Linked DNA regions of Homo sapiens: region 1 is linked to region 2. Evidence: fine-mapped expression QTL. A gene starts in region 2. The other region holds a variant in brackets. All regions are shown on one strand. Distances are between the middles of the regions. Region 1 overlaps SYT17 (synaptotagmin 17). Region 2 holds the start of SYT17 (synaptotagmin 17).

Region 1 (5,370 bases), 43 kb after region 2:
AATAACAGACCAATATAATCCAGTGTGAAATGCAGCTTGTCAGCCTCACTGGGGGCTTATGGAGGAAGGGCATTGCACTCACATAGAAAGTCAACATTTCGGCTGGGCGCGGTGGCTCACGCCTGTAATCCCAGCACTTTGGGAGACCGAGGTGGGCGGATCACAAGGTCAGGAGATCGAGACCATCCTGGCTAACATGGTGAAACCCTGTCTTTACTAAAAAATACAAAAAAAAAAAAATTAGCCGGGCGTGGTGGTGGGCGCCTGTAGTCCCAGCTACTCGGGAGGCTGAGGTAGGAGAATGGCGTGAACCCGGGAGGCGGAACTTGCAGTGAGCTGAGATCGTGCCACTGCACTCCAGCCTGGGAGACAGAGCAAGACTCTGTCTCAAAACAAAACAAAACAAAACAAAAACAACAACAACAACAACAAAAAACCCTAAGTATCTAGCAATAGGAAAATGGTTAATATAAGTTACAGTATTTCAGCCTAATGGAATGTTGTATGTGAACATTTATAATGACACTTATAATGTCTAGATAGTCACATGGAAAATGTGTGTGTAATTCTTTTAGTTTTATTATATTTTATTATTTTATTTTTATTAGTACAAATTTATGAGGTACACATGAAATTTTGTTACATATGTAATATATAGTGATAAAGTCATAGTATTTAGGGCTTCTATCATTCTGGTACAATACATTTTTGTTAAATATAGTAACACTACTCTACTATCAAACATTTATTATTATTATTTTTTAATTGAGACGGAGTCTTGCTTGAGGCAGGAGTCCTGAACTCCCGGCTTCAAGTGATCCTGCCACCTTGGCCTCCCGAAGTGCTTGGATTACAAGCGTGAGTCACCGTGCCCAGCCCCAAACATTGAATTTTTTCCTTCTCACTAACTGTATGTTTGTACCCTTTAACCCACTTCTCTTTATCCTCTCCCCTCTGATCTAAGGGTATTTTTTTTTAAAAGGGTATTTTTTTTTAAAGGGTATTTTTTTTTTTTAAATACCCTTTTTTTTTCTTAAAGGGTATTTCAGAATGTGACTGTATTGTCAATGCAGCTATGCAAATACAGGGTTGAGGTATTGACAAAGACTGGGAAAAAAAGTGAAGAGAAGAAAGAAGAAGAAAGAAAAGGAAGTGAAAGCATTTGATGAAATGTGTAAAGCACTGGCATTGCGGTTGGAGTTTGCTTTTTAAAAAATCCATTTCTATTTTAATGTTGTTTGTGCAGCAGATTAAGAGACAATAGACTTTATCCAACCGGTGAGAGCAAAGGCATAAGGGGGCGCAGAGCAGCTGTGTTTGGGCTTCACTAAAATTTGTGTGCGCACATTTGAAACCCTTTGCTAGGTGAGAGAGAGCGAAAGGACCATAGAGAAGGAGTTCAAAGCAAACCTGTCAGGAGGAGAGCTGGGCTCTTGCTATCTCCAGAAAATGTCTTTTGTCCCAGATGATTTTCTTTGATTTCCTTTTTATTGATTAGAAATTAACTGTGTTGAAAGGCTGCCGGGAGAGAGAATTTTTGTCTGGGTAGAGAGGAGAGAGCTGAGCCACATTTGCCCAAGCCGGCTGCTGGATTCATCTGAGTAATTTACAGATTGTCTATTTTGGTTCTCCCTAGCCCACCCCACGTGGTTCGACCAAATTAAGCGCATCGGGCTCTTACAAGAAAGGAAATGAGGCCTGTTTATTTGTGACATCGCTTCCACAAGGGACGAGGTAGAAGTGGGCCTGTCACCCAGTTCCTTCTCCTGTCTTGGCTTCGATTCTGTGGGGGTTGGATAGGACAGGGGGTGGAACATCGTGCTGACAACCCCTCTCGGCCCGTGGTGTGGCAGCAGCTCAGCCTCTGTGTTGGGGGCTGCACTGCTTGATCTTGGATTTGTTTCTGGTGCTGTGAATATAGTAGTGGACACATGGGCACTTTCTTTGCCTTTATGGAGAAAAAGGTAAGGACCAAGTACCGTGAAGGAAATGACAAGGTGGTGTGATGGGAAATGATGGAGGCAGAGGGGTGTTTTCAACTGAGTGTTAATGGGAAGCTTAGATGAGGAGGTGACTGTTGAGTTGAGATTCCCAGGGAATAGCAAGTTCAAGCCTTGGGGCAGGTACGATCTTGTATTTTTTTTTTTTTTGAGACAGAGTCTCGCTCTGTCGCCGAGGCTGGAGTGCAGTGGCGGGATCTCAGCTCACTGCAAGCTCCGCTCCACCTCCCGGGTTCACGGCATTCCCCTGCCTCAGCCTCCCAAGTAGCTGGGACTACAGGCGCCCGCCACCAAGCCCGGCTAATATTTTTGTATTTTTAGTAGAGACTCGGTTTCACTGTGTTAGCCAGGATGGTCTCGATCTCCTGACCTCGTGATCCGCCCGCCTCAGCCTCCCAAAATGCTGGGATTACAGGTGTGAGCCACCGTGCCTGGCCAATGATCTTGTATTTTTAAAGAATAGAAAGAAGGCAGAGGCGGTTGGTGAGTGAAGTCTCAGAGGTAGGCAGGAATCAAATCATTTGGATCAAATCATTTCGATCCCGTAGATAAATTATTTTAGAGACCATTAGTTCTCAACTGGGTGATTTTTGCCCTCAGTGGACATTTGACGATGTCTGGAGACATTCTGAGACTTTACCACTGGGGAGAGGGGTGATGCCGCTGGCATCCAGTGTGTAGAGGCCAGAGATGCTGCTAAACTTCCTGTAGCGCACAGGACAGCTCCCACAACACAGAATGCTCCAGCCCAAAGTGGCAATAGTGCTGAGGTTGACAAACCCTGTTGTTGAC[C/T]AGGCTAAGCACTTTGAATTTTATTTTGAGAGATGGAGGGTTTTAAACAGGGAAGTGAGGCCGGGTATGGTGGCTCACACATGTCATCCCAGCACTTTGGGAGGCCAAGGTGGGCAGATCACTTGAGGTCAGGAGTTCGAGACCAGCCTGGCCAGCATGGTAAAACCCTATCTCTACTAAAAATACAAAAATTAGCTGGGCATGGGGGCTCATGCCTGTAATCTCAGCTACTCGGGAGGCTGAGGCACAAGAATCACTTGAACCCAGGAGGCAGAGGCGACAGTGAGCCAAGATTGTGCCAGGGCACTCCAACTTGAGCCACAGAGCGAGATTCCTGTCACAATAAATAAATAAATAAGAAATAAACGGGGAAGTGAGGTAATGGCATGGTTCCGTTTTCTTTTAGAAAACCAGAATATTGGTCTAAATTATTTCAGCTCTGACATTCCAATCTTATCTCACTAAATTTGGATAAGGAAGACTTCACAGAGTTGGAGATCCTACCAGAACAAGCAATCCATTTTCCTTGGGAGGGCTGAACCCACTTCCTAGGAGGATTTTTGTATTTGGTGCTTGGATGTCCACTTTGCAGTGAAAAAGAATGGCTTAAGGAGAAAGAAGAAGGAAGGAAATCTTAGCTGGATCTTTCTGGGCTCTGGATTGTGGCTGGTGCTTTGGCCTCTTCAGATCCAGAGGGGACTGAAGACAGACTCAGTGGAGGCAGTGAATAGACTTTTCTTTCTTCTTAAGAGACAGGGTCTTGCTGTGCCTCCCAGGCTAGAGTGCAGGGGTTCAATCATAGCTTACTAAAGCCTTGTTAGAAACAAATGTGCAGTGTCACAAAGAAAATGAGCACTAAAACAAAGGATTTCCCAGTAAGGCAAAATTTACTTCTGTAGGAAGGTGTTTCTCACAGGTCTAGTCATCATGAGAGTGCACTGAACAAAGGAGGGAAGGGGTTTTTATCCCTAACGTAGCTTGTCCCTGCTACTGTGTCCTGCCTCCACAGGTTGGAGTTGGACCACACAATCTAAGCTGAACCTGGTTGGCTAACTTGGAAAGTGCGGGAATGCGGTTACACTGGCAGGAAGGACAGTTTTGGTGGGAAGAGCTGCTGTGATGGGAGGGGTAATTTACAGAGTGGGTAGTAGATGTAGGCTCTGTAGATAAGGACCAGTGGAAGAGTTGTTTACTGAAACCAAGACAGGGAGGTACAGAGAGCAAGGAAGTTTGGCCTTAAAAGTAGAGAACAAAGAACAAGGAAACTAAACAAGCTAAACCTTTGAAGAGGAGCTTCTCGCATCAGATAGCCTCAAACTCTTGGCTTCAAGCATTCCTCCTGTCTCAGCCTCCTGAGTATCTGGGACCACAGATGCATGCCACCATGCTAAGCTAATTAAAAAATAAAAATAAAGAAAGTTTAGAAATGGAAGGTGGGAAGGTTTTGCTTTGTTGCCCAGGCTGGCCTCAAACTCCTGGCCTCAACCCATCTTCCCACCTCAGCCTCCCGAGTAGTTGGGATTAGAGGCTCAAGCCACTGCACCTGACGAACTGTTCTTATACCAAAAGTTCCAAGTCTTCGGTTCCTGTTAAAATTTTGTTCAGGGTACAGTTATGTATTTAAAAAATCTGAATCAGCCCAAGATTTATAGGCTTAGTTCAGGATTTCTCACCTTTGGCACTAGTGATATTTTGGGCCAGACCATTCCTTGTTGAGGGGGGCTGTCTTGTACCTTGTAGGATGTTTGGCAGCATCCCTGGTCTCTCTCTACCCACTAGATGCCAGTAGCAGACCCTACCCTATTCCCCAGTTATGACAACTAAAACATCTCCAGATGTTGCCAAATGTCCCTGGAGGTGGCAGCAGAGAGGACAAAATTACCCCAGGTTGATGCAAGTTGGATGTCCTAGCACCTCATGGATGTCTGTAAAGATCACCATTAATTTCATGATCTTCCTAAGTGGGGCAAGTTGAGGAGCTGCTGGACTAGATGGTCCTGCTTTCTGTTCCTACATTCTAAGCTCCTTATCAGCTGGCTCCTGGTCAGCTTTTTTTGTTTTGTTTTAAATTAGAGACCATGTGTTGCTCTGTTGCCCAGGCTGGAGTGCAGTGGCACCACCAACATTCACTGCAGCTCCGAACTCCTGGGCTCAATTGATCTTCCCACTTTGACCTCCTAAAGCTCTTGGATTATAGGCATGAGCCACCATGCTTGGCCCTCGTCAGCTTTTAGATGTAGCATCTGATACTTCTAGGGAAGAAGGACTGAGAAGATGCTGGCTCCAGGAACACCCCAGGGACATTTTTGTCCCTAGATTGTTAGAGCCGACATTTATGATGCCCAAGTGAACGATGTTATTCATACGTACAACATATTCTGGGGCAGAGACCCTGAGTGTGATGGCAACTCTCCTTTTCCTCCAGGGCTGGGTTAGGATAAGGCTCTGAGGCCCCCAAGCCCTGAAAATTATGGCGCTGCTCACCATATGTCATTCAAGATAATAATAATTCTCTTTTTTTTTTTTTGAGACAGAGTCTTGCTCTGTTGCCCAGGCTGGTGTGTAGTGGTGCAATCTC
Region 2 (5,370 bases):
TCCCAAAGTGCTGGGATTACAGGCATGAGCCACCATGCCTGGCCAACTTCACCTCTTAATGCCTCTTTTTTTCTCACCTAAAGAGTGGGATAGTACTTGTGCCTACCTCATGGTAATCAGAGAATTAAAAGATCAAAATTTGTGTAAAGGGCTGAAAACAGTGCCTGGTACACAGACCTCAAAAAGGGTTAACTTTTTTTTTTTGAGATGGTATCTCATTCTGTCACCCAGGCTGGAGTGCAGTGGCACGATCTCAGCTCACTGCAACCTCCGCCTCCCAGGTTCAAGTGATTCTCCTAGCCTCAGCCTCCTGAGTAGTTGGGATTACAGGCACCTGCCACCATGCCCGGCTATTTTTTGTATTTTTAGTAGAGACGGAGTTTCGCCATGTTGGCCAGGCTGATCTCGAACTCCTGACCTCAGGTGAAAAAGGGTTAACTATTTTTACTTATGGGAACACCTAGCAAATTCCTCGAACTCCCTCAAGTGCCCCCAAGGAGCACCCGTTCCAATAGGCATCCTCCTCTGTGAGGCTCACTCCCCACCTGGCATGCCTTGCCATCAGTGCTGGAGAAAGATTGTGGATAAATACCACAAAGTGGTTAGGAGTGGCCACTTTGGGTTCACTGCTGGACTTGTGGGTTCAAATGTCAGTGCCCTGGGCTACCAGCTGTCAGGCCTTCATAGAGGCTTTACCTGTCTGGGCTGCAGTCCCTCATAAATTGGAGATAATCATAGCACCTCCCTCAGGAAGCAGAGTGAATAAGGCAACAAAAACAATTACTGAGTGCCTACTCTGGCTGGACAGGTGCTACCTAATAGGAGTGATCAAGGTACTGCAGGTTGAAATGAAATAACGCTTGTGAAGTGTTGAGGCGTGTATGCCTGCAGAATCATAAGCACTCAATATGCGTTACGTGCTATATGCTACAAACTAAATATATCATACTAAAAAATGTATAGGTCTGCTAGATTTTTAGACAAAAAATATATGCATCTGAATATCCATCTTTTGTTACTCCCATATTCATTTTCTCATTTATTCCCACAAATCAGCCCTGGAGGATAGGCAGGGTGGAGATTTTCTCCTGTTTTTACTGAGGAAAAAGAGGCACTGGGAGGTTAAAATTAAAATGCTGATAAGCTGGTGTCCGGCAACAGGAGATGACTGGGCATATTAAAAAGAAAACCGGCCCGGCGCAGTGGCTCACGCCCCTAATCCCAGCACTTTGGGAGGCCGAGGCAGGCAGATCACTTGAGGCCAGGAGTTCGAGACCAGCCTGGCCCACATGGTGAAACCCTTTCTCTACCAAAAATACAAAAATTAGTGGGCGTGGTGGCATGTGCCTGTAGTCCCAGCTACTCGGGAGGCTGAGACACGAGAATCCCTTGAACCTGGGAGGCGGAGGTTTCAGTGAGCCAAGATTACCCCAGTGCACTCCAGCCTGGGTGACAGAGTGACACCCTGTGTCAAAAATAAAATAAAATAAAATAAAATAAAATAAAATAAAATAAAATAAAATAAAATAAAATAAAATAAGAAATCCAGCGGAGGGCAATGTTCCACCTCGAATCTCTGAGTGGAGAGCCAGAGGCCTTGGGCTGGGAGGTTTGATGGAGGCCTCTGGGTCCAGGGCGCCCCAGCCACGAGGACAGGCAGGAGGGCGGCGGTGGACACGCCCCGGGGCGCACGCTCGCTGGCGGCCGCCTGCCCGTGGGCAGAGGAGCGCACGAGGCCGGGCACGACGCTGGGTGGCGCTGCCGGGCCGCCCCGCGCTAGACCTGTTGCGTCCAGGGCGCAACTCCGGCAGGTTTAGGGTAAAGGGGCGCTCCGCTCTCTCCGCGCGCCCCCTGCAGCCCTGGACGCAGCACCTCCGTTTGGGACGCCCTACGCCCACCTTAACTTGAGGCTCCCATCCACGCAGCCTCTGCAAGCCTCACCGCAACCGTGCTAGGCGCGTCGGGTGGGGCGGGAATAAAGTTTTTCCAACCCAGTTTGGGGAGAGGGCTGGATGGGAAGGACCCTCCCTGCTGCAGACTTCATGGCAGGCTGCACTGTGTCCCCTCGGCTCCACGGCTGCCCCGGGGGCGCTGCTTTCGGTAGGTGCCAGCCCCCGTGCCAGCAGGATGGGCTGACCTGTGTACCGCCCCCTCCCACCCCCTTCCCCATTCCCATCCCCTCCCCCGCCTCCTGCGCGCTCCGGCCCCGGCGTCTCCGGCCCCGCCTGCGCTGGGGTCGCTGCAGTCCCCGCAGCTGCCCCGGGCTGCTTGCCCAGGCGCCCCGGCCTTATTCCAGCCTGGGGAGCGCCTCGGTGGGGAGCACGGGACAGCGAGGGAGGCCGAGGCGGGGGCCCTGGGCGCCCGATATCTCCGAACCGGGGAGGCGGCCCCGATTCCGAGAGCCGGAACGCAGGGAAAGGCAAGGACGGGGCGGCCGGCGGAGGGGCGGGCGCCGCTCATCAGCCACGCCAGTCACGTCTGGGGCCACCGGCTGCCTTTTTCTTCCTTTCCCCCTTTGCTTTCTTCCCCCTCCGCTGTTGGCGAGGGCAAAGTGGCCGTGGCGGCGCCATGCCCGGGCCGGAGTGAGTGCGCGCGGGCGAAAATGGCGTACATCCAGGTAGGGCTGAGGCTGGGGGCAAGGTCCGGGGTGCGGGTAGGGGGTGCCGCGCCCCCTCCGGCTGGGAGCGCGCGGAAGGGAGGGCCCACGGCTAGGCTCCCACAAACTTGCTTCGAGAAAAAGGGTGCCCGTGCGCGGGCAACCTGTGCAGCAACAGGGGTGCGCCCCGGGAGGAGAGACTGGGGACCCCCAAACCCCGGGATGGAGGGTCCTATGTGTACTCTGCAACGCGCGCCCTTGCCTCTTGGGGAGGGAATGGGGGGTGGGGCGGACTTTTCTTCTCCCCTGCCCCCTCCCTCTCCTTGGCACCCCACCCCAGGGGAGGGGCCGTGGGGAGGGCGGCCCGGGGCGCGCCAGCCACCCGGCCCGCCAGCTGCCGTTGCCGTGGTGACGGCTCCGGCTAATTGGCCGGCGGAGCGAGCCTGAGGCAGCTGTTCCGACCAGGAGGGACAAGGACGTCGTCTCTCCTGGGCACTGGGTGCTGAGGGGTGGGGGACACCCAGAGGCCAGAGGCGCGCTGGTGAAGAGAAGGGAGCCTGTTACTTTACTCCGCTGCATTGGGGTCTGGGAGATGTGGACCCTCTTCACCTTGAAGAAACGTCCCCCAAGAATCCTTGGGCTGAAATAATTCTGAAATAATTTCTAAGCAGCCTTTTTTGGGGGGAGGGGGCGGAGGGGTGGGCCGGGCTTCTTGGTGAAAAGACCTTTCTCCTCTGCAAGAAGGGAAGTGACCGCAGGTCAGCGCCAAGGTCAAGCAGGCAGACCCGCAGTGAGACCCGTTGAGCTGCTTGCTTCTGGCGCTGGCGCCTCTGAGCTGGGCAGAGAAGCTTACAGACTCCCACGTCCAGGGTGCATCTTGGCTCACATCTTGTCCCCTCAGCCACAGCTGGGGGTGCTGCTGGTCCTCCCATTCCCCTCTGGGTCACATATCCCCTCATCGTGTCCTCAGACGCTTCAGCCTGCCGGGAACTCTGTGCTGTGTCACCTGGCGGAGCCTCTTCCATTCATCTCCTGCCTTAGATTCCCTGAATTGGCTTCCCTTTCGTGGAATCGCCAGTTTCTCTTCAAGTTCAATGAAGGTCACATTACTGTCCACCCACTGTGTGCTGAATGTTGTCCAGGGGCTATTGAGTAGTCGCCCAACAAACACTTGGGCGACCGCCTACTAAGTGCTGGCACTGGGGATACAGTGATGAAAACAGCACAGTTCCTGCCCCTCTGGGTGCGCAATTTAGTGAGAAATGAACATGATTACCGGCTCCTGGAGTTCTTAATGGCCGCCTTCAGCACAGAGAAATTAAGTGACTTGCCCAAGGCCACATAGCTGCTTAGGGGTCAAGGTGGGATCTCAAGAGGGGACTGTGGTAGATATGTTAAGCATCTCATATGGCGATGACCCAGTGATGTTGGTTTTCCTTCTAGAACAAGGTGTTAAACTTTGTTGTCCTGTAAAGTGCCAGATACTATTTTTTTTCTCTTGGAGGCTCACATGGTCTCTGTCACAACTATTCCACTCTGACTATAGCACCAAAACTGCTATGGACAGTAGTAAATGAGTGGGCGTGGCTGTGTTCCAATAAAACTTTATTTGCAGGCACCAAAATTTGAATTTTGTATACTTTGCACGAGTCAAGAGGCATTCATCTTTTTTTTTTTTCAACCTTTTAAAAACTCACAAATTATTCTTAGCTCAAGGGCTGTAGCAAAACAGGCTGCGGGGCTGGTTTTGATCTGCGAGCCTTAGTTTGCCAACCTCTGTTTAGAATGCATGGGTTGTCTTTCTTCCTCTTTCTTTCTGGTGTGAATTGGTTCTCTTCCATCGGTGTCAAACACGTGAGCCCAGGAGACCCAATGCCAGAAAGACTCAGCATGCCTGGGAATGTCAGGGCACCCTCTTTCATCTTCTTTGCTTTCTCTCTGCTCCTTGACACTCATCTTGCACCTGGGCTTTGAGAAAGTTGGGGAGGCTGTTTTTCAGCAGGGCCATGAGGTGACCTTGTCTCTGTTCACTTTGGTTTCATAAATGGCCTCTTTTGACCACCACATGTCTAGGAAATGCTTCCCTGTATTCAGAAAATGGTCATAGATTATTATGAAAAAGTATCACTTTATCCTAACATTCTAAAGCACTTTTTCATGCAAGCCCTATGAGGGTATAATATTTTGCTGTTTTGTGCCCTGCTGTACCTGCCGGGACAATACCCAGTGCCTACTGGGTTCCACTAGGTCTTGACAATCACCTAATTCTCATCACAGAAAGGGTGCATTTTATTTTTCAGCTGGACCGCACGCAAGTATTTGCATAGTCAGTGTCCTGTCCCACCTCAACAGCACGCCTTTGAGGTATAGAGTAGCCTTTCCACTAAAGAAGAGGTAACCGAGGCTCAGAGAGGCCCCCTGTCTTGCCCAAGTCACATGATCAGTCGATGGTGAGACTAGGACTCTAGTACTTCCTGGCTCAGCTTGTTGCGTGGCCCCTCAGCACCTTTGGGTCTTGTTCTGTGTATGGTTTGAGTTTTGGCTTTAGAGAGTTTGTGATAAGTGCCTTTGACTATTTCCCAAGCTGTTGCTATTCCCTTACCACTTCGAGGATTTCAATTTTTTCACAAGCCACGTACCACCTATACTATGATGATGATGATGATGATGATGATGATGATGATGATTATGATTATTATTTTAGACAGGGTCTCACTCTGTCGCCCAGGCTGGAGTGCAGTGGTGCGATCTCGGCTCACTGCAACCTCTGCTTC

The links. PIP is the estimated chance that this variant, and not a neighbour inherited with it, causes the effect.
Region 1: its variant is fine-mapped to the expression of SYT17 in whole blood (TOPMed, PIP above 0.99).

The regions. Positions count from the first base shown.
Region 1 is chr16:19,209,489-19,214,858 of GRCh38, forward strand. The region is part of intron 5 of SYT17 (synaptotagmin 17); the gene reads left to right. Among named protein-coding and RNA genes, the nearest start is that of SYT17, 44 kb to the left of the region's middle. The variant C/T (reference allele first, on the strand shown) is at 2,793.
Region 2 is chr16:19,166,045-19,171,414 of GRCh38, forward strand. SYT17 (synaptotagmin 17) reads left to right here and starts at 2,196. Exons shown (of 8, transcript NM_016524.4): 1 at 2,196-2,617. The coding sequence starts at 2,603. RefSeq lists a silencer at 1,592-1,841 and an enhancer at 2,033-2,780.